Linked DNA regions of Homo sapiens: region 1 is linked to region 2. Evidence: fine-mapped expression QTL. A gene starts in region 2. The other region holds a variant in brackets. All regions are shown on one strand. Distances are from middle to middle.

What was found.
Region 1: its variant is fine-mapped to the expression of EFHD1 in liver (GTEx, PIP above 0.99). The same link has a PIP of 0.9 or more in aorta and testis.

What each region holds. Positions count from the first base shown.
Region 1 is chr2:232,654,160-232,656,659 of GRCh38, reverse strand. All of the region lies in intron 1 of EFHD1 (EF-hand domain family member D1), which reads right to left. Among named protein-coding and RNA genes, the nearest start is that of EFHD1, 22 kb to the right of the region's middle. The variant T/A (reference allele first, on the strand shown) is at 1,116.
Region 2 is chr2:232,632,120-232,634,619 of GRCh38, reverse strand. It overlaps EFHD1 (EF-hand domain family member D1), which reads right to left and starts at 1,016. Exons shown (of 4, transcript NM_025202.4): 1 at 614-1,016. The coding sequence starts at 915. RefSeq lists silencers at 547-841, 919-978.

The sequences.
Region 1 (2,500 bases), 22 kb before region 2:
TTCAAGACAAGCCTGGGCAACATAGTGAGACCCTGTCTCTTCAAAAATATAAAAAAATTAGCAAGGCATAGTGGCATGTGCCTGTGGTTCCAGCTCCTCAGAAGGCTGAGGCAGGGGGATCATTTCAAGCCTGGGAGGTCGAGGCTGCAATGAGCTGTGCTCATACAACTGCACTCCAGCCTGGGTGACAGAGTGAGACTCTGTCCCAAAACAATTAAAAAAAAAAAAAAAAAGCAAGGTCCTAAAACTAAGACCCCCACAGACTGACTTTCCCAGCACAGGTTTTGAGAGAAATGGCGCTCACTTGCAACTGTGACCACACCTTCAGGGGACTGGGACCCTACAGTGAGTCAGGGAGGCTGCCAGAAAACTCATGGGCGAAATAAATCATAGTGGCAAGTACAAAAAGTCCTGAATCCTGAATGCAAGGGCCACAGTCCTACCCACCTCATCATGGTCTGCCCCACTCCACACAGACCTCACACTTCAGGGAGGCCATGGGCCTGGTCAGTGGGAAGCAGCCAAGAAGACGAATGGACTTAAGACCCCACACAGGCCGGGCACGGTGGCTCACGCCTGTAATCCCAGCACTTTGGGAGGCCGAGGTGGGTGGATCACGCGGTCAGGAGATCAAGACCATCCTGGCTAACACAGTGAAACCCCATCTCTACTAAAAATACAAAAAAAGAGCCGGGCATGGTGGCAGGCGCCTGTAGTCCCAGCTACTCGGGAAGCTGAGGCAGGAGAATGGCGTGAACCCAGGAGGCGGAGCTTGCAGTAAGCCGAGGTCGTGCCACTGCACTCCAGCCTGGGTGACAGAGCAAGATTCCGACTCAAAAAAAAAAAAAAAAAAAAAAGACCCCACACAAGGACAGGACAGGGGTGGAAGGAACAAGTGGGATCTGGCAAAGAGCTGCCTTCAGATGTTGCCCAGGGGCCCAAAGGCTGCCAGAACTGGGCTCTGTGCATGGAAATGGGTGAGACAGACTTTAGCTAAGTGCAAGGAAGTGCCTTCTGGCAAAACGGCCAACTGGAACTAGACCTGAGAAGTAAAGAGAGCTTGCACAAACCGGCTGGGAGGGACAGTCTCTGTTACACGGAGTCCCAGTCAAAGT[T/A]AACAGGTTCAGTGTGGAACTTTCCAGAGCCTTCCGTATGTGTCCAAAACTTACAAGAGGGAAACAGAGCACACAGACTCATCTGACCACACAGTCCTCTGCATTTGGGGATTTTCTGTTGAGAAGACGTACCTTGGCAATGCGGTTTTTCAAGGAAACCCTCTGAGAAGCACTTCTCTGGTCAAGTCAGCCTTAGAAGGGGTGGCCCAGTTAAATGACCACTAAGGGCAGGTACAGTGGCTTGAACCTGTAATCCTAGCTACTCCAGAGGCTGAGGCAGGAGGACTGCTTGAGCCCAGCAGGTCAAGTCCAGCCTGGGCAACACAGTGAGATCTATCTCTTAAAAAAGAAAAACATGACCACTAAGGTGCCTTCAGTGCCAAGAGTCTGGATAAATGTCTTCTGCCCACCGCTCACTGCCCAGCACACATAGCGTGTTCCAACAGAATTCGCAGAACAGGCTGAAGTGATCAATGTGGTGCATATGACACGCCAATCATTTGGGACATGAACAAAGAGTGAGCAGAAAGGAAGGAGAGTGAAGCGAGTAAGGGAGGAACTGAAAAGCCTGGGTGTAAGGAGACAGCAGCGCCCAGGAACAGGAGACAAACTGACTAGGCAGATGGGAGGATAAGTAAAGGTCAGGGAATAGGCAGGAATCTGTCCTCAGCTGGGAGAGGAAGCACCAGGGAGACGGCTTCCCAGCCCACATAAGCCGGAGCTAGCGCAGCCTCCCGCAGACACAGAGGGGCTGTCACATGTGAGGGACAAGAGGCTCTCCCCAACACAGGGAGGGGGATGAGAAAAGCCATCCTCTGGCAGGGCACGGTGGCTCACGCCTGTAATCCCAGCACTTTGGGAGGCTGAGATGGGAGGGTCAACTGAGGTCAGGAGCTCAAGACCAGCCTGGCCAACATGGCGAAACCCTGTCTCTACTAAAAATACAAAAAACTAGCCTGGTGGGGTGGCGGATACCCACACCTGTAATCCCAGCTACTCAGGAGGCTGAGGCAGGAGAATTGCTTGAACCCAGAAGGTGGAGGTAGCAGTGAGCCAAGATTGTGCCACTGCACTCCACCCTGGGTGACAGAGTGAGACTCTGTCTCAAAAAAAAAAAAAAAAAAAAAAGAAAGAAAGAAAAGAAAAGTCATCCTTTTACCTCTGGGGTTCGAACTGAGAGGAGTCTAGAAGACTTGGGAAACCTTCCTTTCAGGCCCCAAAGCCTGCAACGTTCTCCAGGCCTAACAAAAAAGGTCAAATATGTCAGAAAAGACCTTGGCAAGCTTAGGAAATATTGAAGGAATTCCAACTTCTTTCTTTTCTTTTTTTTTTTTTTTTGAGATGGAGTCTCGCTCTGTCGCCCAGGCTGGAGTGCAGTGGTGCGA
Region 2 (2,500 bases):
GTGCCAGCGGCCAAGTTCGGTTCCCACAACCGCCCCCCCTCCCCGCGCCCCCAGGAGGCTCCCGGGCCGCGCCTGCTCCAGGAAAGTCCTGAATCTCTTACAACGACTTTACCAAACTCCCCGTTCTCGGCCTCCGCTCATTCATCAGACCCCGCGCTGCAGCCAAGGATTAACTTTCCCCTTTTGTTTTAAAAGATAAAAGGCCAACAGGGGCTAATTTTTCCCTTGGGGGGATACAGTGAAAGCTGGCAGGTGAGGCGCGGCGACGGCTCCCTTTCCTAGAAGTTGCTTTCGGAGCAAATCTCCGGACTGGCGGGCGGAGGGGGCGGGACCAGTGGTCGGGGTTGGGGGACCTGGAACTCGGGCCCGGCAGCCGCCGAGAACTTTTGGGCTCCGTCCCGGAGAGCTCCTGCTCCTGGTGTCCCCCCTCTTCGGCCCCGTCCCCCACCGCGCCGAGATAGACCCGAGCACGCAAGATCTGGCTGCGTTGGGCCAAATGCTACCTGCACCCCGGGACCCCTCCCCACACAAACAGGGCCCGGGACTTCGGACCAGAAAGCCCTCCCGCTCCCTCCCTGGTCCCGGGGGCGAAGGGCGCGCAGCGGGAGCTCACAGTTTGAACATGCTCTCCAGGTCCTTGATGAGGCGGCGGCTGAACTCCGGGAACTCCGTGTAGGGGTTGAAGACCCTGCAGCGCCGGGGCCGCGCAGCGCCCTCGTTGATGTCCAGCCGCCGGCTCAGCTGGGCGCTCAGCTCCGCGTCGGCGCTGGCCGTGGGCGCACGGGCGGGAGGCTCGGGCTCGGGCTTGGGCTCCGGGGCTGGGGCGCCGAGGGGAGCCAGCTGGGGGCCACTCTCCTCGGCCTCCTCGCGCCGCAGCCGGCGCTCCAGCTTGCACGCCAGCTCCTCACTGGCCATGGCGGCGGATCGCAGGACGCGGGAACGCGGGGACGCGGGACGGGACGCAGGGAGCTGGCGGGCGGCGCGCTCCTCGCAGGCTCGAGGCTCTACAACACTCCGCCGAGGCGGCGGGGACCCGGCGGTTGGGAGGGTCTGAGGACGGACTGGCGGGCGGGGCGGTCGGGGCGGAGCTGCGGCTTTAAGGAGGCGCCAGGGCTCAGCGACTGCCAGCCTGGTGGGAGGAGGCCGCCGGTGTCTGGGTGTCTGCGCGTCCCGGAGACCCCGACCTGCTTCCTCTCCCCGCGGCTCCGGGCGGGAGGCTGACCGTCCCCCCGGGACCAGGCAGGGACCCTCGGATCAACTCCGACCTTGCTGCCCCTGTCAGCTCCGGGGAAAACCGTAGCGGGAAAAAGCGTCTCGACCGTTCAGACGGTGCCTTTCTTGTCCCCCAGAAGTAACCCGACTGGAAGCGCTCGCGGCCCGGGACAGGCTGGGTGGGGGAGGCGAGCGCCCCCGAGCGACACCCACGCGTCCCCCGCGTCTGGGAGTGGTGCCCACCCTCCCCGGGGTCAGGGAGTGGGAGGCGCCCGCCCGGAGCGTGGGGCGGGGGAGCTGCTTTTCAAACACTCATTGGAACGAAATGTTTCCAAAACATGCTAAAAATACTAAAAACAAATAAGCAAACAAAAAAGAGAGAGAGCAAACGAGCAGAAAAAACTCCCGTTTTCCCTAGAGGCAGGAAAGCAGCGTAGCTTCAGGGACTCGGGTTTTTTTGCGTGAAACGCACAAGAAAAGAGAAGAAACCTGGCGCGGAGACTCACATCCGCAATCCCAACACTTAGGTGTTGGTGGCAGGATCTTTTGAGCCCAGGAGTTCGAGACCAGACTGGGCAACATAGTTAGACTGTCTCTACAAAAACTTTTAAAAAATCAGCCAGGCATAGTGGCGCTCGTCTGTAGTCCCAGCTACTCAGGAGGCTGAAGTAGGAGGATGGCTTGAGCCCGGGAGGTCGAGGCTGCAACGAGCCATGGTCAGGCCACTGCACTCCAGCCTGGGCGACAGAGTGAGACCCTGGCTCTAAAAATAAACGAAGAAGAAGGAGGGAGAGGGGGAGGAAAAAAGAAAGGAAAGAAGGAAAAGAAGCTTGAAAATTAAATCAGCATTTTTAACAAGAGGGTAAAAACAAATACAGTCGTCATTCTCCCCAAGGAAGGCTGATGCCGCTGTTACATCAGCCAGGCGTTGAGAATCTTGTAAACACGGGTCTGTCCCCACTTGAGAACGACGCTGCTCTGACCCACCATGGGCTGATGACTGGGGCAGGTCAGTGACCCCGCTGGACTATGGTTGTCTGAGACCCAGGGACCAGCCTTTGGCATGCGAGTGCAGGGCATGCGGGGGACCTGGGTTAAAATGTTATTTTTAAAAAGTTATAAAGGAAAATACGTTTTTTAAAGAAAAGTATAAAAATCTTTAACATTCCTACTGAACAACTTGACTTGGTACAGAGAATACGGGTTTTACATATACAATGGCAACCCTGCAAATAGATCACGGGGCGCTACACTTCCTGACCTGGTGGTGGTGACTAGAAGGTTGGCT